Regions from separate parts of the Homo sapiens genome. Here region 1 is linked to region 2. The links come from fine-mapping of genetic effects on gene expression. A gene starts in region 2. The other region holds a variant in brackets. All regions are shown on one strand. Distances are between the middles of the regions.

Region 1 (11,359 bases), 67 kb before region 2:
GGGGAGCAAGGTAGCGGTGCTTGCTGGGCTCAGGCAGCAGCTATCTACCAACCTCATGGAAGTAGTTCAGTATTCAATAACCAGTATGGCTGCACCAATCCTGATGCCAAATACTTGAAAAGAAAACAGAAAAGGACTACCGCCCTCATCAAGTAATGGATAGGTTCCAGGTAGCTAGTCAACTCGCTCATGACAGAACCATTCTTTTGCCTTGTACACCACACCAAACCTTCTCAGAGTTAAAATTCCCTATTTGCCAGGTTTTCTGTGAGGTCTGGGTTGCTCTTTGTTATGACAGACCATGACGACTCTCCACAAGTGCAACCTCCTAGATGTCAGAGATCAGGGCACCCATCAGTGTACTGTAATGAAAGACAAGTAGCCGCCGCCCCCCATCACTTACCAACACAGGTACGGCTGTCATTGTGGTTGATGATATAACCTGGGGGACAAAAACACGCTCCTCCATACGGCGTCTCATGGCACTGGTACTGGCAGTTCAAGGCAGAGCACAGAGTCATACCTAAACGAAGAAAAGAACTTTGTTAAATGAATGGTGACCTCTGGACAAGACTGATTAATCTAATAGCTTCTTTTTCCATGAGTAGCAGCTCAGTAAGCATGAAGTAGATGTACAGAAAAATCTGTCACCCTTCAAAGCTTACTGCAAAACTTTGCAATAAAAGTTCAACTGAGACAGGAAGATTGCTTGAAGCCAGGAGATCAAGACCAGCCTGGGTAATGTAGCTACACCTCATATTCACAAAAAATTAAAAATAAAAGCATTAGCCAGGCACAGTGGCTCACAACTGTAATCTCAGCACTTTGGGAGGCCAAGGCAGGAGGATCACTTGAGCCCAAAAGATGGAGGCTGCAGTGAGCTATGACTGCACCACTGCACTCTAGCCTGGGTGACAGAACAAGAGGCTGCCTTGAGTGGAAACAAAAGAAAAGAAAAAGCTCCTTTTTAAAGTTATAACTATGTGCAAGTATAAGTCATTAAAAGTCTTATTTATGAAAAAAAAATCAGGTCATGCATGGGTCTATCTTTGTGTCTACATAGTAAAAAGGGCTAAGAACTCCCAAGTGACTGGAGCAAGAATAAGCCCTAGAAATATTAACTGTGGCTGGCTTCAAGAGATGGGATTTCAGGTGATTATATTTTTTTCTTTTGGTTAATTTTTATTTTCCAACTTTCATACTGTGACTACATATCTCTTATTAATTTTTAAGCTTTTTTAAATGGGCTCCCAAATGAAATAGAGAAAAAAATGCCATAGAGGTCTCTGCCTGTTTAAATATTATGTACAATTTTTGTCAGGAAACAAAAAATAACCTTGGGGTTGCAGTTACATGGGCACTTCTAGGCAATCACAAATTTAGTTAGAGTATATTATTGATGAAATCAAGGTTTTAAATGGCATTTCCTTACAGGACCATCAGCTGTCCACAGAGTTGATGGGTTGTTGGTGGGGTGAATATTCTACAGCCCCAAAAAAGGAGAAAAAAAATCCCTAGTTCCAGTCAGTTTCCTCATAAATGAATGTGGTCACACAAGACATAATCGAACAACACTGTGCATGGCCAACTCAGTTTTGCCATTGGAGAGTAACTCAAGGTACATAACCCAGGAACCAGAAGCTTTTTTTTTTTTTTTTTTTTTTTTTTTTTAGTACAGCCAGACAAGGCCTTTTTCCATAAGTATAAGCCAGGTAATAAAATCTCCAGAACATCTTTAAGGTCATCAAAATTGCCATTGAAACAATCCTCCCTGTGTGTGCGTTAGGGATTAGGAACGGGGAGTTGCTAAAAAATTGTTAGGCTCTTCCCATCAATAGATGGAGTCTATTTCTTCCATCCACTCTGGGTTTGGCCAAGTGTCTTGCTTTGGACAATAAGACTTGAGCAAACTTGGCATAAGTAGAACCTTGAAAGTACTTGAGCCCTAGGATTTGCTCTTTCAGCCTCTGGGTCAACAAGGCTAGGCTAGCCCAAGCTTTTACTGCAACATCCTGACGTGTGAGTGAGCTGATACAGGCCAGAGGAACTACCTAGCCAACCCACAGAACTGTGAGAAATAAGACACGTTTCTCAGTTTATGCCACTAAGTCTTGGGGTGCTTTGTTATGCAAATGCCAACAGATACACTGTATTTGAACGTCTGTTCTAGAAAACAGAAATATCTTTATCTGAAAGCTACCCAGGTAAATGTCTATACTCACTACAGTATTTTCCGGTACTAGTGTTGTTTTCATCTTCTCTTCCTGGGCAATCTAAAATCCCATCACAAACTTTATAAATGGAGATGCATCGTCCCGACTCTGGGCAAGACCATTCTCTTGGGGAACATTTATGAACATCATGAGGACCGCTTTCTGTGGGGGGAAAAAGAGAGAGTTACAGGCCATAGGGGAGGTACAGCCAGCTCTTTGTTAATCAGTGGTTTACAGAGGATGTAGAGCAAGTTGAACAAGAGAAATCTATAAATGATCTACATTTTACAATAAGTTAGTGATTTCTAACTCTACCACTAGTCTTTTACTGAGATTCTAAGGAGAGGCATAATGGAATTACTCCACTTTTCCTGGAAAAGGCAGCCCCCAGTAGGGTTATAAGAGGAAGAAGCAGATATGGGCCTCAATTATCGACAAACTAAATTCATGATCCCCTAAGAAAAGATGTAGTTATTTAAATCATGAATTATAGAATTAGGGCCATCAAGTTAGGTCCAGAATTACTTGAATTTGTGGTTGGGCTTTTTGATTTGCTTTGTTTATTTAGTGAAATGTCAACAGTATAAGAAAAACCATAACCCAAATGTAGAAAAACCACTTTCTGGAACATAAAAACATAAAACATAGTTTTAACAAGCATTTCCCTTATCATACCTGGGATTGGAATGGTGCAGGTAACTTGCTGTAGGGTATGGGTATTAGTAACTGCTAAATTGTTGGAGGTACTGCTGATGATATCAGCAACATAAAAGGGTCAATATCAGCAACATAAAAGGGTGAATATCACTGGCAATTTCCTTCTCACGGAATCTTTAAGCACTTCCCTGGATAGTAGCTTCTCCTACACTTACCATCCCCAGCTCCAACCCACGTGTTCCCAAGGTGGCCTCTCTTTCACCACTGAGTGTCAGTGACTCATTTGGGAATCAGAATTTACAAAACCAAAACAAAAAAATAAGCTGAACTGTTACCAAGGTTCAAAGTCATTTTTAAAGATTGTAAGGTCTAAGACAAATGACATTTTCCCTATTTTCTTTCCTTCCCCAGCCTATTAGTTTTATATAGTTTTAAATCTATTTAAAACAGGCAGTCTTACAGGGAGAAAGTCAGACTGGGGTATAGAAGAGACAGAGACTGTCCTACCTATTTTGCCTTAAAGATAGAAGGGAGAGGATTATAATTTAATCTGTATTTGTGTTCTGAATCTTCTTAGGAGAAGTTAGCGCAGTCACCTCCGTCTTCCCCACCCACTAAGTTCCTAAACAACCCCTTCAACTCCAGCCAATCCTGAGGCTTGCTTGTCACACAAAATTTCTAAAAAGGAAAGGAGAAAAAACAAGCGCTGGAAAACACTTGAAGAAAATGCTTTTCAGTAGGAATCTCTTCCCCTCCTTACCACATCCATCTTCATCTCCATTATCTTTACAGTCATCTTCTCCATCACAAACCCAGTTTTGATAAATGCATCGGCCACTGGGGCAAGTGAACTGGTAACCACCGCAGGTCGGATAGTCTGGAATAAAGCAACAGCTGCACTCCAAAGACACAAATCACCGGGAAAAACTGAAAGTGCTCTCACCTCACTGCCTAAGCAGTACTCCTAGAAATTGAAATTTCTATATCAATTTAATCCCTTAGACATCTTGACAAAAATTTTTAAAAAGGAGGAAAAAAAAGAGAGAGAAAGAAGAAGATAACAGCAGCTTTGGGTCCAGGAAATGAACTCAGGTGCCGGTTTCTGTTTTTCAAGATTAAAAATTAGATCAGCCTGGGCAACATGGTGAGACCTCATCTCTACCAAAAATACGAAAAATAAAAATAAATAGCCAAGCATGGTGGTACATGTCTGTAGTCTCAGCTACTCAGGAGGCTGAGGTGGGAGGATGGCATGAGCCTGGTGGGGGTGTGTGGAGTTGCAGTGAGCCAAGATCGCACCACTGCACTCCAGCCTGGGTGACAGAGTGAGACCCTGTCTCAAAAAAAAAAAAAAAAAAAAAAAAAATTAAAAACAAGATGGTTTGCAATGCGTTGGCACAGAACAGAAAATGCAGACAAAGATGCTGCAGACATGACAACATCCAACGTTCTCATACTTTACTACAAGCTCCGTAATTGCTAATCTATGACCAAATGATTCTGAGTCGACCATTCCATGATGTCACATTCTCTTTAATTCTCTGTCACTGAAATAAGCCCAGGTTCCAGAAAGGAAGTCAGGCATGGCTCATTGAAAATTAGGGTGATATCGAAAATATTTAACAACACCCTAAGGCATGGGTACCAACCAATCAAAAGAGGTGTGGAGGGAAATCATACATTCTAGTAAATAAATCACCACGCAAAGCTGCCAACTTACTGAACATAGTAAAACTCTTTCACAGAGTCTTCTAACTTTACTCTTTCCAAAAAACATAAGTGGAGAGGTGGCAACAATAAGAGAGGTCATTTGCATTGCAGGCAACAGCATGGACATAAAAGCAAGGTCAGCGTGAAGAAGTGGAGGCAAGAAAGCCACCTATACCACACTGAAACTTTCAGGCTGGGCGTGGTGGCTCATACCCATAATACCAGCACTTTGGGAGGCCGAGGCGGGCGGATCACTTGAGATCAGGAGTTCGAGACCAGCCTGGCCAACACGGTGAAACCCCATCTCTACTAAAAACACAAAATTAGCCAGACATGGTGGTGCATGCCTGTGATCCCAGCTATTCGGGAGGCTGAAGCAGGAGAACTGCTTGAACCCAGGAGGCGGAAGTGGCAGTAAGCCGAGATCGCGCCACTGTACTCCAGCCCAGGCAACAAAGCAAAACTCCATCTCCAAAAAAAGAAAACGAAGAAAAAGAAACTTTCCTGACCCTCCAACTTTAATGCAGCAGAAATTTCAAAGTAAAGAGGAGAGTTAGAGCCACTCCTAGGAACTTCCTTTCCCTTAAAAACACTTCTCTCATTCTACTATCAAGGTTGTCAGAGGTATGGGTCATTTGAGAATCCAGTGATACAATATATCCTGTACCCCTGGAGCCTAAGGAAAGAAGGCAAACTGTCCATCACCAGCCCTTTACATCTACACAGATCCTTGGAAAATAAAGGAGCCCAGGTCGAGCAACACCACAAAGGCTTGTGCCAAGACCCCCTAGTGACCGTCTGATTCCATCTGCCATCAAACGTAGTGACTCTTCTCCTTGAAAAAAGAGGTACATTGGTGGGGGAGCGGGGGGATAAAACAAAACAAAACCGAAACAAAACAAAACACTCCCAACAACATGACCCAGCATAAAGAAATCACCGTACTGCAAGCATGTTC[G/A]TCACTGCCGTCTTGGCAATCATTGTCATGGTCACAGACATAAGCACGAGGGATACACTCTCCATTGCCACATGAAAACTCATTGTGCAAGCATATCTCAGCTGCAACAGAAAGTTAAGAAGGGAAAGAAAAGAGAGAAGTTAACTCCATTGTAGCCATTTAATCTCAAAGGAAGAGCATCTCCAGTTTAAAAAGGGATTCTTATTAAGCAGTGGTGTGCTGGTAACTGTTTAAGAACCAGTTATCCAGGAACAAAAAGGCCCTGGTTTGTAGTGTTTGCCGATTTCCAGTGTGTAAATACTCCTACCAACGGCTGACTTCAAACTACCAACATGAATTCACTGAACCTGAACTTGGGAAGAGATGTACATATTGGCTCTCTCAAACCAGTATAAACCAGCTTCAGCACACAACTGCACATCTTGTGCACAATACTTACTGCAGTTGATTTCATCTGAGGAGTCCCTGCAATCAACTTTCCAATCACACTTCTGACTGGTGTTATAGCAGGCCCCATTGTCACAAGTAAGCTGCTCACATGTTGGGTACTCTATTGTAAAAAAAAAAAAAAAAAAAAAAAGGAAAAGGAAACAGTAAACAAACCTTAAATTTCCTTCAGCAAACATTTATTGAGTGATTACTATATGCAAGTCACTAAATGCATATATTGATACACAAAAGAAGTATGCTCCCTGGCTTCATGGAGAGTAAGGCTGGACATGGGAGACAGACATTAATCAAATAAGACACAAATGGTAAATTACAAACTGGGATAAGTGCTAATGTGGAAAGTACAGAGGACTGTGAGACTGCATAGCAGAGAGATTTGGGGGCCCAGAAAAGTATCCCCTGAAGAAGTGACTTTTGAGCCAAAAGATGAAGAATGAGAAAGAATTTAACTTTAGTTCAAAATCAAACATTCTTTTACATGATACAGATAACATCCCAGGAAACTAAAGTACCACTGCACAAGCTTGGAAAAAAGAAAGGCCATTTCTTCCACTGGCGGGTTGCAGAAAGAAAGCAGGCCTAGAGTTCAGGAGCCCTGGCGGCCCAGAGGTACCACTAAGCAGCTATTTACTGTGACTCAAGCTTCATGTCCTCTCCATGTTGCTACTTCCCTATCTGCACATTTGGATAACCTACTGCACAGGGTAGAGCGGCCTGAAAAGACCATGTCTGGTAAAGCATGTTGAAAAGCATAATGTGCTTTCAAAGCACAAATTGTTGTTGCCACGTTATGTACATATGACCACCTCACTGCTACTCACTGGACCTGGTTTTCTAGGTCACAGTTGAAAATCAGGAAGTCCCTTACAGGAATAACGTGCTATCTGTCCCTCCTCTCTACTTGCCAGACTTGGACCACCTGTCTCTCATGACTTCTTACTGGAGGCTTTATTCTGTGGATGGTTGATCTCTTTCCGCCATGACATAATGAAACTCCCTGAGATCAAGGATCCTGTCTTACTCATTTTAGAATCCCCAACAATTAGTACAGGGGTGGGACATTTCTCACTGTGCACACTTAGTACAGGGGTGGGACATTACTCTCTGTGCTTGAGAAATGTTCAATGTTGCTATTATTTATCACAGGTGAACATTTTAGTTCATTCGGCTTTTTAAAATATTTTGAAGTTCTGCCTTTTATGGCCTTTGAATACCCTCCTTTTCACAAATGTGGATATCTTCCTTGGTCTGACCATCTTCTTCATGAAAGATTATTTTTGTAGTGATTATCAGGTCATCTTCTGATTTCTTTTTAACCAAGGAAAAGGTATGTCTTAATTGACTTTGAGTCTCAATTTTGCACTTAAGAACCCAATTTGAGATTTTATAGAGATATAAATATATTGAAGATAATTCTTTGGATAGTCCCAAGTCTTTTCAAGCAGAAGCCATGCACAAAATTCTGTGCTGAAACTGTACTAAACTTGTGCCATGTTAACAACTTGCACTTTTTAAAAAAATGGACTCTCCAATGATCTTTTTTTTGGTATAGTAAAGGAATAAGCCTAACTCTTCTCATCTCCAGAGGTTCAAAGCTAGTTTATTAAGTGTCCTTAAATATCTCAATTGCCAGAGTTACATATAGTCAATCATATGTTAAAATGGAAGGCATTTTTAAATAGCTGGTTAAAATTTAAAATTTTTTCTGAATTTTATTTTGTTTTTTAATAGTCCAAAAGTGAGCCAGTGCCTAGAGTTATTGCGTCTTTCCTCGCTGAGATGATATGCCTTACAAATGTGCCTTCAAATGAGTCACACAACTCTCCCTTCAAGTGATGTTTATTAATTCTCCCTTCAAGAGATGCAAAAGACCAGGTGAGGTCAGCAAGCAATTCCTTTGCCCCTGTGAGCCAGATAGCTCCTAGAGTCAATGTGTTATCTAGCCTTTTAAGAGCAGCAGCAAGCAGAAGAAAAACTCGTAGAAAACCCAGCTCTTTGCAATAGATAAGCTATCTGTCTGGAGGAAAATTAATCTGGGCTTGAACGGTGGCTACTTCATTTAAGGTGATAATTATAAATATAAAGAATCTGGAATAAGTGTGCTGGATGGATCTCTCGTTTTCTTCATCCTGCTTTTTGAGAGCCAGTGCCAGAAAATTGAAAGGGGAAAGATTAAAACTGTAACCACTGACATGACTACAAGTTTACTGACAAGGCCCATTCCCCACCCAACAAACAAGAAGCCCAGCTTGATATCATCAGGGAGGGTATTGTGATGGCCAGAGGTCAGCAGTTTGACTTTTGGAATGAGGAACACACAGCTTTCTTGTCTCCATCCACACTGATAAAGAATCACTCTCAATCAGCAGAGGACCCCTCTCAACCCCTGCACACCTTGATCTCTTCGGTGCATAGTTAACCTGGGATGTATACTCATAGGAAAGATTGCACAGAGCTCCCTAACTCCACCAAATACTGAAAATACCTGAAAATCTGTTTCTGAATGGTTTTCCCTCTTTGGAGACCCACACAGAGACAACAGGTCCAAACTGTCAACACTGAGCAAAGAAAGAAATGAATGGATTCTACTACCATTGCTAAAGATGTTAATGAGTTTCAATCTACTCCAGAAAACAATAATTCACAATCCTTTGAGCTTCCAACTGGGAGATATCTAAAGTCTTATTTTTTGGTTCATTTGCTTGGCAAGCCTAAGTCTAACCTTCTTCCCACAGAGCAAATCCATCATGTGGCTATAATGTCCTGCAAGAATTTAAGTATAGGGTAAAGTGCAATATGAGAGGAGACCATATATAAGAACACCAAGGAAACTCTTCCTTCTGAATTTGGTTTTAATGGAAAGATCAACAAGTAGCTATAAATTAAGCCTCAGACCTTTAAGGTTTTTTCTAACACAAAAAGGTGAGAATATCCTTCCTCATACCACTCCTTGCTTCCCCTTTCTTTACTTTCTCCCAATCCCAAATGATACATGTTCAGATTTGTTCCCCCATAATTGGGAGCTGCCCCAAAATTATGCAGACAAGAGTTTTTATATTTTTTCACTGTTAATGATTTGGTTTGAAGCAAGAAATTTCTATGCTATAGTTCTGTTTACATAATCAGGGAGGAGGGTGTAGAAATGTAGTTTGAAGATCTTGTAGACCTCTTAGAATGGAAATCATTTTAAGCAGAGTAAGATACAAATATAAGGCACTGTTCATTATTATCTTGACAGGAAGACTGCAGACATGTTTTATTCTCACAATTTGACAACATGGCTGAGGACAACATAGAAAAAACCATTATTATGAAGAAGGAATCTTAAAAGTAGGTTAGGAAACTTAAGCCAAGATTGGGAAACACACACACACACACACACACAAGAAATTACCGATACAAGTCCAGCCCAGACACCTGGGACTTTTCAAGGTCCTAGAGTCATCCTTTATAAGTTACTTTATGTTATTTCCTCTGGCTCCAAGACAGATTAATCCAGTCAATGTAATGATTTGCCAGAAAGAATCTACCAGTTTGGCCACCAGCACTTACTTCAAGCGCTACCCACAAAGTTAAACAAGCAATCATCATCATCATCATCATCATCATCATCATCATCATCAATAACATGTATTAAAAACTATGTGCCAGACATGTGTCAAAGTACTCAATATGTATAAACTCATTTCATCTTCATAACAACTTCATGAAGTAAATACTATGATGACTCCCATTTTATAGAGTAAGAACCTGAGCATTAAGAGGTTAAGGAATTTGAAAAAGGTCACATAACTGGTAAAGTTGGAGAGCCAGAATTCAAATCCAATCAACCTGGCTCCATAACCCAGGTTACTAACCACTACCACAGATACATCTACCACTTATAGGCTGCAGAGTAAGTAACAGGAAGAAGCGAAAAATTAAAGAAGAAAGAAATTGAATGAAATGGTAATAGAAAATTCTTAAAAGAGATTATGAAAAGAAAAAGAAGAAACCCAAGAGGAAGGGGGGAAGATTTTCTTTCTGCCAGTCAGTTTCCCATCCACATTAGGAAGAAGGGAAAAGTGAGGCCAACTCTAGTTTCCCACAACTTATGGCATAGTTAACAAAGTACTTCAATATGATATAATCTAGGAATTCTAGGAAACCTACACAGGAAAAATAACTTTCCAGAAGGAGTACCAGGACAAACAGGAGAGTCAATACCAAAAAACAGGCCATAAAGTTAGTCTCATGAAGGTACCACCACGACTCCCCAAACCCCCATTCCTGGTGAATTTCAAGTCCCTAAAGTGACTGCCATCATGGACTAGCTCTTAGGGAATGCAGTAATATACAAGGAAAAAAACAGAGAAGCATATCCTTCCCCAGTCCAAAAGTAATTTGAAGAAGCTTTCAATAAAAAGTTATATAAAACCAGATTTATTAAAAAAGAAATTCAGAAAGAAGAAAGAAAGAAGGAAAGAAAGAAAGAAGGAAAGAAAGAAAGAAAGAAAGAAAGAAAGAAAGAAAGAAAGAAAGAAAGAAAGAAAGAAAGAAAGAAAGAAAAAAAGAAAGAAAGAAAAAGAAAGAAAGAAAGAAATTCAGCACCTTGGAAAGAGAAAGAAAATATGGTCATCCCGAGGACTTGTAGAATTGAACTAACATCAAGTTTAGTCTGGGTGGCTTTCAGGAAGCCAAAGGAAAAAGAGAAATAAACTAAGTTATCTAGTTTTCCTTAGCTCACTCCCTTTGTACTAACTGGGTCTTAAGCCTGAGATTCCTTGCTGGTCTCTATCCACAGTGACCTAATCTTAGACCTCAACTAGAAATGTGCCTGAGAGGGTTGCTCCAAGGAGTCCAGATCCACAGCACTGCCTTCTTCCCATAACAGAGCTATCACCAAAAACTGCAAAGGAGATAAAAACTGACATAGTTCTAAATTCCTTAAAAAAAAAAAAAACTCACACAAGCTCTATTACAAAAGTGACCGAGCAACAAGATGGAAAAATGTGCATCAAATGCTCCAAGGAATAGTACAAAGAAGTAAGATGCCTTCTAAGGGGTAAACAAATGTTTATAATGTACATCATGTTTAGTGGCACGGGGCTACATGTTTTCATTGAAAGCCAGACAACACCATGGTTTCATACTTTAGTAGTTATTCCCAGGGACCCACCTGGGCAGAACAAAAGACAAAATCTAATCAAAGAGACAGGAAAACTAGCTGCACCCCAGCATTATAAGAGTAGCCACTTTCCAATCACTAGAAATGGTGTGGCTCAGCCTCCCTGCTGGAAATGTAGCCCCAAATAATTTGAATACTCATCAGCAAATCATTGCTGGATGAATGTCAATATCCTAGAAACCAGTTATTCTACAGAGTGCTGCC
Region 2 (11,359 bases):
AAATGAAATTGCCAATATTTGACTATTTCTGCATAGGAAAAAAAATCAATCTCAAATGGATCAACCTAATTATCTGTATCTTTTCAACTATGTATTTATTTTCTTTGAGACAGGGTCTCACTCTGTCGCTGAGGCTGGAGTGCAGTGGCATGATCACAGCTCACTGTAGCCTCGACCTCCTGGGCTCAAGCGATCATCTCACCTCAGCCTCCCAAGTAGCTGGGACCACAAGGGCACACCACCATTCCTGGCTAATTTTTTGTATTTTTTGTAGAGATGGAGTCTCACTATGTTGCCCAGGCTGGTCTCAAACTCCTAGGCTCAAGCAATCCGCTCACCTCAGACTCCCAAAGTGCTGAGATTTATAGGCATGAGCCACCACACCCAGCCTCAACTATGTATTTCAATAACCTTCCTTTTTTGCCTCAGACAGTTTAACTTAGTTTTGTGACATTCACCAACATAACAGTACTGAATAACATGTGAAGTTGTGGTAGCCACTGTAAGGATGTAACAACATGCACAGGTGCATCATTCTCAGACCCACGGTAAAGAAGATACCAAAATACTGCAACATCTTCCTCCTCTCAAGTTTGGAAAAAGTAAAATTCTCGTATTGGGTAATAATGATGAATGGAAATCTATATGAGACTTCACAGTTTATTAAACATTTCACATTCATTGCCTTTGCATAACCACCCCGTGAGGTAGATATATGTCCATTTTACAGATAAGAAAACTGCCCCAGAGCACCCAGCATGTGTGGTACTGGATTTCCCAGATAATAAATGGCAGAGGTAGGAATCAAACCAAGATCCTCCAACTTCAAAATCACAAGCCCTTCCCACTTCATCTCAAAACACTGTAACTGTCAAGAAATTACTTCGGAAACATTTGCATTAGGAACATGTGAAGAACCACAGAAATGCTCTTGACATTTCAAAACAACTACTAGCTGATCATTATCAAGAAGCATCCCAGAACTCGGATGCTGAAACATCTCCAATCTTTCTAATGCTGGTGAGATCCTGGGCAGGGTTATTAGGAATGAGTCAATGACTATTTCAGAATCTTAAATGCAAAACTGCAGTCCATTTTAATTGCGAGATATGTAGACACCTCTTTTCAGTTCTCATCTTCCTTAATGTTTCTGTAGTATTGATACTATTGACTCATCAGCACACTGTTGATATTTAATAAATATTCATGGAAAAAATAAAATAAACATTCACAGAATACACAATAGTGGTAAAAATTTTTAATTACTCAAGACTATAAAGTTAATAGGATACGATAGAACCATTTGATTTATACCAAAGGTTCCATCAAGCTTATTTTTTCCATGCTAGAATAGGGCTTCACAATTAGTATTTTTTTAGTTGCTCTAGATTCGTGCAGTCAACCTTGAGAACCCCTTTCCTATCCATTCAACACTCTTTCATAAGCACCTTCTACTTTCTTTTCTTTTTTTTTTCTTTTTTATTTATTTTTATTTTATTTTATTTTATTTTATTTTATTTTATTTTATTTTATTTTATTTTATTTTTGAGACAGATTCTTGCTCTGTCACCCAGGCTGGAGTGCAGTGGCACAATCTCAGCTCACTGCAATCCCTGCCTCCTGTGTTCAAGCAGTTCTCCTGCCTCAGCCTCCCGAGTAGCTGGGATTACAGGTGTGCGTCACCACGCCCAGCTAATTTTTGTGTTTTAAATAGAAACAGGGTTTCACCATGTTGGCCAGGCAGGTCTCGATCTCCTGACCTCATGATCCTCCCGCCTCAGCATCCCAAAGTGCTGGGATTACAGGCATGAGCCCCCACGCCCAGCTCAGCACCTTCTACTTTCTACTTACCTTGTTCTAGCTACTAGGACTTAACAGAAACTCCAAAGCCAATATGACAATGCACTTGCTTCTGATTACACAGGAAATACATCTAGGTTCCTGGTATCATTATTTTTAAATGATAATTTAAAATTTTAATTTAAATATTTTAAAAACCTTTCAGTGTTCTTACAGTGCCTGACTAGAGAACATGAACAATGATTATGACCTAATAATTACCTTTAGTAAGACTGAAAACCTAGTCTTACAGCAGCCTGCACTACAAAACCCAAAGATCTTCAGGAATGCGCTTTGATGGCTCAAGAATTTGAAAAATGGATCTGGAGGTATGGTCTTTGGGAGTAGGGGCACTGACATGGCATCAGTTCTGGACCAAGCTGAAAGCGCATGGTACATGGTTGTAATAACCTATCACAGGATTCCTCTTTGGCCAGGGACAGGTAACCCATCCAATTGTTTTTAAGATTCATCTGCTTATCAGACTGTGCCTTATCTGGCAAGTCAGGATTCCAAAAGGAATCTAGAAATCTCAACCAACCAAACAGGCTGGGGACATTCAGAAGGCATGAATCTAAAAAATGGTCCACTGCAAATTTATATCTTAGCTCTGTCACAGGCTAGATGTCCTTAGGCAAGAAACCTATTAACCGCCTTCCCTTTCATCCTCTCAGCCCCTTTCTTCTCCCTCCTGGGCTAATTGCTTATCTGTAAGAAAAAAAAAATGCAAGCAGACCAGTTGATATCTAAGGTTCCCTCTAGCTGTAAAAAGTCTGAGTTTCTATTAAAATGAGACAGGTGCATGACTGAAGGGAGTTCAGGCAGAAGTCTTATGAAGACTGGTAAAGAGAAACTTTTTCAAGTAGAGAAAGAGAAGCCAACAACTGTGAAATTAAAGCAGCAGTGAGGTTCCAGAGTTGTGATGGAATAAAAACGATACAAGTTTGCTATTGCCCCCACAATCCTTTTAAACATATAAACTTCATGTGAAGATGTAATTGTCATAAAAGCTGATACTAACTCTTAAAAACATTACCACATTTTTATTGGATTAAAGAATATAATGTTGGACCAGGTAAGGTGGCTCCTGCCTATAATGTCAGCACTTTGGGAAGCAGAGGTAGGAGGATCATTTGAGGCCAAGAGTTCAAGACCAGCCTGGGCAACACAGTGAGACCCCATTTCTATTTTTGAAAAATAAGTTTTTTTAATTAGTAAACAGAATACAACTTTGTTTAAGGCCAATACGATTTTCTCAAAAAAAAAAAAAAAAAAGAAAAAATCTTCCAATCACATGCTAGGGTCTGAGAAGTCTTCAGAGAACTGTTAGTGAAAAATGCTTAAAGAAGACTTTCCTTTGTATATTTGAAAATTGGAAATGGAAATAGGAATAGGAAGCAAAACAATATGTTACTTTAAGGGTTGATAAATATAATAAAAATATTGTATTTTTAGATTATTTTCTAGTTTATTTTCACTGTCTATATGCTTTACACCATGCTAAGCACTTGGCATATTTTATCTCTTTATGCTTACAAGATGTCATTGGGTAAATTCTCTTATTATCTTGTCAATTTTGCAGATAAGCCATCTGAGCTATGCAAAGTTGGTTGACTTTCCCAAGGTCACACAGCTAGAAAGTGGTAAAGCCAATGTTGGAACCCAACAGCTTGACTCGAGTTCAGACTCTGCAAAATGTTTTTTCTTGAAAAGCATTACACAAAAGATAAGGAAAATGCAAATAATTTTTAACAACAGATGTGGTATAATTTTTTTCAAAGACTAAACATAGAATACTCAGAGCTCTTTTTTTTCCCCTCCAATTTTTAGTGATGCGAAGTTTGCAATGGTAGCCTACCTAAAAGGTAGTGCTTAAATAAAGGCTGTTACAATCTCATTGGATTTTACTTCATATATTAAGTCAGGATCATTACAACAGGATTCTAGAAATCTCAACGTATCAGGCAGAGGACATTCAGAGGAAATGCGTCTTAAAATGATCAAGTAGGAAGACTGGGAATGGGGAGACTTGGGTTCTGGTCTTAGAAACCTGAGGAGAGATTCTGGAAAAAGATCCACAGTTATGAAGCAGCAGGTGGTACGAGTTGCATATTGCCCCTCAGCTTCTTTGGGAACCTCAAACATGGACAGTAAGTTAGGGAGCATGACATTTTTTGTACAAAAGAAAAAAGAGAAATCGGGCCAGGTGCAGTGGCTCACACCTGTAATCCTAGCACTTTGGGAGGCCTAGGCGGGCAGATCACTTGAGGTCAGGAGTTCAAGACTGGCCTGGCCAACATAGCAAAACCCTGCCTCTACTAAAAATACAAAATATTAGCTGGGCATGGTGCCCCGGGCTTGTAGTCCCAGCTACTTGGGAGGCTGAGGTGTGAGGATCGCTTGAACCTGGGAGGCAGAGGTTGCAGTGAGCCGAGATTGCACCACTGCACTCCAGCCTGGGTGACAGAGCGAGATTCTGTCTCTCTCAAAAAAAAAAAAAAAAAAAAGAGAGAGAGAGAGAGAGAAAACCAGACACTGTATACTGTAGCAATTATAGACTCTGAATTCAGAATCCCTTGAGTTTGCCATTTTCTAGCAGTATGAACTGAGACAAATTACTGAATTGTTCTGTGCCTCCACTTTCTCATCTGTAAAACAGTGATAATAAGAGTACTTACTTCCAAGGGATATTATGAAGATTAATTGAGTCAATAAGTATAAAGTGCTTAGAACAAAGCCTGCCACATATATGTGTATGCTAGGTTACTATTACTATACACATTATTATTATATATTATTATCATAGAATGGAAGATGGATGGGTGCAAAAAACTATCAAGAAGAGTAGGTATTGGTTATTTAGTGACTAAATCATCAACCCAGGAAAAAGAATATCTGTTTTGGTTGTACAAGGACATAGATGAATCAAGGTAAGATTTCCTTTTGCCAGGCACTGACAGGAACATATAGTAAATCCTATAGCTATATTTAGGACATGAGATACAACCCTAAGCATTGTGCAAACTCTGCACAATAATAATAAACCCTCTTTCTGCGTTACCAACACTGAGAAAGGGTGTTCAAAGGAAGGTTATTAATGATCTCTCCTTGCCTCTCCTGCCTTTCTGAAGACTTTTGCAAGACCTGTGGGGTTTGTTAGGGTTTCCAAACTTCTTCCCAGGAAGTCTGAAATGGGTGCTGCTAGGAGTTGCTGTATAATTACTTACTTGATTCCCTCTAAGGAGCTTACGCTAAGAATTGAGGAAAGAAAGCAGATTAACCATTTGAATACATGCCACGGCCCATCCACAAGCCCTCCCCTCACTCCTCCGTAAATGGGGGCTTCCACATTCCCCACCCATCAACCCCAATATGTGATCCAGGAAAATCAATTTATTGCTTTGGCTAATCCTACAACAATAGGGGTTTCATTTTCATTGTAGGGCAATTAAGTTGTCCGACGGGAGGGAAGGAGCAGGAGGGGAAAGGGGGGACTCTCCCATCCCCACAGACAGATTAGTCCCTGCGGTGGCAGCAGCGTCCCCTCTGTCTGTCTGGTGGTCGGTCACACGCAGCTCCCGGCTGCTACCTAGCAACGCAAAGCCAGGGGGAGAGCTCGCCGGTTCCAGCCTCCTCCTCGCCCTTCCCATTCATCCTCGGCCGGGTCTCTGTCTCTCTGTCTCTCTCTGTCTCTCTCTGTCTCTCTCTGTCTCTCTCTCTCTCTCTCTCTCTCTCCCTCTCTCTCTCTCTCTCTGTCTCTCTCCTCTCTCTCCTCTCTCTCTCTCTTCTCCCGCCCCAGTCGTTCTCTTCCCTCCTTCTTTCCTTATTCCTATTTGCTTCTCTTACGCTCTCTCCTCTTCCCTTCTTACTAGTTTTATTCTCTCCGCTTCTTTCTCCCTCTCTTTCCCTCTTCTCTGTTTCTGTTAAAACATAAACTATCGGACAACTTGAGAGAAGTTTAAAGCACTTCATACTAGAAACTTTCTGCATTCGATCCCCAAAACTCTGGCCATGCAGACGGGCCCCATTCATCAACACAAAAGCCCCCAGCTCCCAGCTGGAAAGGAAAACTTCAAGAAAAGACTCCAGTCCCTCAGCCACTCTCTCGGCCAATCCCACCTCCCGGCCTTATCTTGGCTCGTAAATGATCTGTATGGTGAGAGCGGTCTCTGGGGGTCACCGCGGGACCAAGTTTCGCCGGTGGTGGGAGGAGTGCTCTGGCCCGCGGCCCTGGGCGCGCGAAGGGATCCCGGGAGGGGCGCTGCAGGTGGAAAGCTGCGCTCTGAGCAGAGCCCGGGACCGCGCCGCCCAGCAGAGAACTCCGCTAGGGAGGGCAGGCTGCAAACGGCGGAGAACCTCGTTCTCCCGCAAAGTGCTTTCCAGGAGCATCGGACCAACGCCCGTGGGAACAAAGACAGGGTCTCCGTGGGGTGCGCTGTCACCGAAACTGGCGGGGCTGCTTTCTCAAGTTTGCTGCCGCTCAGTTCCTGGCGAGCGAAGAGGGGCGCTCCCGCTCCGGCTTCGCGAAGCAACCTGAGCGCCCCACCGGGAGCAGCTCCCGCGCCGCCGCCCGGCCCTAGCCCCTGCCCGGACGCTCTCCCCTCCGGCCTCCCGCGGACCCGACCCTGCCACAGCCGGGGAAGTGGGGGCTCCACGAGAGGCTCTGGCTGGGCTCTTACCTTGGCCACTGGCCGGCGCTAGGCAGGCGACGAGAGCCAGGAGCAGCGTGCACGCCACTGCTGCCGGCCCGCGATCCATCTCCGCGACGGTCCCCGGCCTCGCCGTTCCTTCCCCGGGAGGTGGGCGCGCGTAGCACACCGCACCGGCAGCGCCTCTGCTAGCGAACGCTCCTTTAGGTCTGCACCTCCGCCAGCTCCTAGTGGCCAAAAGCCTGCCCCCACGCCCGAGGCATCCCGTTTTCTACCCGCGCCAGTCCCCACCCTCCAGACAGTGCATAAAGCCCTTTAGACCCGACCGCCCCGGAACAAGCATGCGGGAATCCAGCGGGCAGGCCCCCTGCCGCCCGGCCCGCCCCCTGCACTTTGCAGCGCGGGGAGGAGTGGGCACTCGAACACACGCGTGCTCACACAGGGACACTCACACAGGCGTGTGCACACTCACACACGCACTCATACAGGCGCATGCACTCCTAAGTGTCACACCAACTGACACAGATTCACTCATACACGCCAGTCACACACGCGCGCACATTCCACAGTCACACTTCAACGCCGACATACACAGTCCCCTTTACGCGTGCATACAAGAGCACACTCCTGTGCGCACACTCTCACAGGCACACTCACACGTGCACACGCGCTGCCCTCGCCTCTCCGCAGGGTTTGCCCCGCACAGAAGCCGGCGAGGCGGCTCACGGGGAAATCTGCACGGACGCAGTTTTACTAAATGAGCAATGGAAAGAAATGGACGAGGAGGAAAGTCAAGAATAGAGAAGAGAAAGAAAAAATAAGAAATGGAAAAGGAAAGCACAACCAGACAAGTAAAAATGAAGGAAAGAGAAAGAAAGGGAAAGAGGCGGGGGTAGGGAAGGGAAGGAGTAAAGAGCCTGCTGGATGGAGATCTGTGACCTTCATTCCTGGCCTGATCTCTCTAGGCTCCTTCGGATATCTTGGTTTCCCCTGATAGGATACAGGCTGCTGAGATGGGGTGCTTTGTGTTTTTACAAATTAGAGAGGGAGGTGGATCTTTGTTGGGGAGGTTGGATCCTTATTTAGCAATTATTCAGCACCACATCTACAGGTGTCATGGCCAGATCGTGCTTCTTACAAGTCTGCTCATTTTGAAGCAAAATTGAAAAAGAGCGAACGTCTTCTCCATGGTTCCGGTACCCTTTTATAAGAAGGAGAAACACGAGAGGTTCAGGGAACCCCTAGCCTCCCTTCTTTGGGGCCGCTTTGGACAGGCTGGCAAGGGGCCCGGAAGCCAAAAGCACAAGTGGCCTTACACCCGCCCTCAGCGCACGTCCTCAGCCTGTACGTGACATCAGAGCCCACAGGGAGGGGTAAAAAAGGAGGGTTGATGCAAGTTATTTCCCGGTGGTGGGAACCCTGTGTGAGAAGGGGCTGTTTGCGGGCCTGAGGCCATCCCATCATCTCCAGCTCCAGCCCCTGAACCAGCGCGGCAGCTAGTCCCAGGCTCCGGATCCTGGTCCAAGAAGTCAGGAGCCCTTTCCCTCCAGCGAAGGGGCCGTGACGCATGGAGGAGACAGCCCTGAACGCACGTGGTCGCTGGACAGGTTCCCGCTGCCTCCCTTCCCCAGGGGCGAGAACCTGCCAATTACTGCCAGCCCCTTTCCCCGGGGCACAGGTCGTCCGGGGCTCTGCTGACCCCAACAGTCCGGATCGCGTAGCTTCCGTGGGCTGCAGTGGTAGGCGCAGCTTTAGGTGTGGGGGCTAGGGGAGGGAAAGGATAGGTGTTACTTTGGAAAGACAAAAAGAGATAAATAGACACAAAAAGAGAAAACTTAGGCTTAAAGAAAAAAAGGTGGAGCGGGCAGCGTTGTGGGAAAGAGTGGGAGAGATTCCTGGATTGGGAAATCCAGAGGTCTGTGCTCTGGCCAAAGTCACTGGTTCTCTATTTGCCTCCCTGCATAGTGTTGGGCGCTGTGCGGCGCGGAGGAGACAGGACTGGGGACAGGAGAGCCGGGGTCTGGGGAGGGAGGGGGCGACCGGACCGGAGCGGGAGGAGGGAGGCGGCGAGGGGGCTTGATGCTGCACTCCAGTCTTCGCGGGTGATTTATGCCGGTTCCGGGCGGCCGAGGCGATGGTACGAGACCGCGCCGGGGTCAAGCCGGTCCGACGCCCGCTGGGGCCGCGCTGCATAGTCAATGAGCGTCCCCGCACCTCCGACTTACAAAGAGCGGCCGCCGGCTGGCGGGAGGGAGGAGCGCGAGTGCGGGAGGGGCTGGGCTCCCTCCAGTGCGCCCGTGGGCGCGCAGGCGCGAGCGTGTGTGTGTGTGTGTGTGTGTGTGTGTGTGTGTGTGTGTGTGTGTGTGTGTGTGTGTGCCCTTTCACTGTAGCAGCCAGGGCTCCAAACATTCCTTTCTGTACTGAAGAGTTCCTCAATTGTTGTTGTCTTTGTGCTCCAGTGTTGCCAACTTACTGGAATTCCTGACGTGGTTGCACAGCAGGGCTCAGGCTGACCGTACTAGCCAGCTGCGTTTGTGTATGGGGCCGACCCCGCCGTTAATCCCAGAATAACGCAGAAGAGGGGAAAGGAGGGAGGGAGAACGGGAGGTAGGAGAGCAGAAAAGGGGTAGGGATGGGGGACCACCTAGCGGAGCACAGCCCATCATTCGCAGCACTCTGTATGTGGACCCACACACTTTTCCACTAGAATAACCCATTTTCTCAATGCAATCCCCAATTCGTGACGTTTGAAAACAGCCTGCACCATGCACGTGTTTATCTCTGGCATCCATACCTGAGAATGCCTGTTACTAGATTGGGGTGATTAAATCTATGGACCAGTATCTGGGAAAGCCCAGGTTAATTCAGTTGCAATTTAAGCCAGCAGTGTTTCTCTATAATGCAAAAAGATAATTTCTTTAGTTTTCACATTTCTCTCTCCATATATGTATATAGGACTTTTCAGAGCAGTCAACCGAAAGAGACAGGTGAAAGTGAAACCAAGAAGCTTCAGCACCACCATTGCCCCAGAAGCCAAGCTGAAATTTACATCATTCTTGACTCCTTCTTTTTTCCACCCCCATTGCCAATCAATCATGAAATTCTGTTACCTCAAATTTATCAATCCACTCATCAATCTAAATTATAGGGAGAGCCTTAGAATGAGCTCCTTGCTATCAGTTTTGCCCCCTCCCATCTACTTTCCATTTGGCAACCAGACAATTCAACTTGGTAGTTCTATCAAACTAGTGCTTGCAAACAGAGGTAATTACTTTTTAGAGGGTAATGAAATCAATTTAGCAGGTCAAGGCAAGAATTATATTCAAATGAAATATAACAACATAGAAACCAAAATAACTTTCATGTGGAAAAGATATGTATAACTTTATAACACTACTGTTTCTGTGTGTGTGTGTGTGTGTGTGTATGTGTGTGTTTCCTCCTGAGTGCCTCCTGAGTTTCCTCCTGAGAGCCAACTGCCCCCTGAACAGCTCCAATCCAATGTCCTAAGGCCTCAAACTCAGCAGGATGGAGCCCAAACCAATACACACACACACACACACACACACACACACACACACTGTGTCGCCATGTAAAATATATTTCTCATATGCATCTCAGCCAAAAAAGTTTAAAGTATCTCCCCACAAATTACTTATTCATTAAAAAGGGAAAAAGTGACTTTAAGCAGAAAAATATGTCAGATATTTTAATATGTTTCATTATTATTTAAATATGATAAAGTCAACAGACCAAAAGATAACTGCCATTGAAAATATAGTTTGTTATATTCACAGATCCCAAGAGAAGGAGTACACATCTTGCCTCAAGGGACCACACAGGGAAGCAGAGGGCAAGGGGAGAAGTGTGGGCAAGCTCCTTTACTATGGTTTCCACCTAAAGGAACAGACAAGGCAGAGTAAGCAGGTTTAGGACTGACTAATTTGTATTTATAAAACAAGCAGGAGGTCAAAGCAAGATGACTAATATGTCAGGCATATTAACAGATTATCTAGAACAAAGTGTATATGGCATGTGCATGCAGGACAGATGTTAAACATGAAGTTTAGGCCCAGCACAGTGGTTTATGCCTGTAATCCCAGCACATTGGGAGGTTGAGGCAGGAGAATCACTTGAGGCTTGAGCCTAGGAGTTGGAGGCTGCAGTGAGCTATGATCACATCACTGCACTCCAGTGAGAACCTGTCTCTCTCTCCCCTATATATATTAAGGCATTATATTTATAGAAGCTAGAAATGTGGTAAATACAATAGGCTCTACATTGAACCAAGGAATCAAAGTCAACACAACAATCAAAACTAATATGAGGCAAACTGACATCATGTTCCTCCTGGTGTGACACACTCTGAAGGACACAGCAGCACTTCTGTGGTATTACTGTGCATGCCCCAAATCTAAGCATGAGAAAACATCAGTCAAACCAATGTTTTCTCATTTTTTAGAATGTCCAAACTAAGGGACATTTAAGTACTAAAGTACAGTATTTGCAGTATATTTTGTATACTTCAAAAATGGCAAGGTCATAAAAGATAAAGAAAGGCTGAGATATGCAGTTTAGAAATATGCAGTGCATGACCCTAGGGTGGATCTTGGACTGGGAAAAAAGTATCTCTAGAGGATGTTATGGGGAAAATCAGATATGCATGCCCTCAGAACTCTCTTTACTTCCCTCAGCCCAGCACTTGTCACATTTGTTGTGTTCCCATGGCCTTCTCAAAATTCTTCTCCCTCTGCAACCAGAATAATCTTTTTTAGTCATTATGCCAACCATACACTTGCCTGATTACAACCTTTCAATCACTTTTCCATTTTTCCACAATAAAATGAAAAATTTTTAGCATAGCCTACAAA

What was found. PIP is the estimated chance that this variant, and not a neighbour inherited with it, causes the effect.
Region 1: its variant is fine-mapped to the expression of LRP2 in nasal epithelium (TOPMed, PIP above 0.99).

What each region holds. Positions count from the first base shown.
Region 1 is chr2:169,288,623-169,299,981 of GRCh38, forward strand. It overlaps LRP2 (LDL receptor related protein 2), which reads right to left. Exons shown (of 79, transcript NM_004525.3): 5 at 5,978-6,088; 6 at 5,526-5,639; 7 at 3,631-3,747; 8 at 2,223-2,375; 9 at 404-523. Among named protein-coding and RNA genes, the nearest start is that of LRP2, 68 kb to the right of the region's middle. The variant G/A (reference allele first, on the strand shown) is at 5,539.
Region 2 is chr2:169,355,803-169,367,161 of GRCh38, forward strand. LRP2 (LDL receptor related protein 2) reads right to left here and starts at 6,732. Exons shown (of 79, transcript NM_004525.3): 1 at 6,519-6,732. The coding sequence starts at 6,597. RefSeq lists a silencer at 1,636-1,820 and enhancers at 6,583-7,216, 7,217-7,850.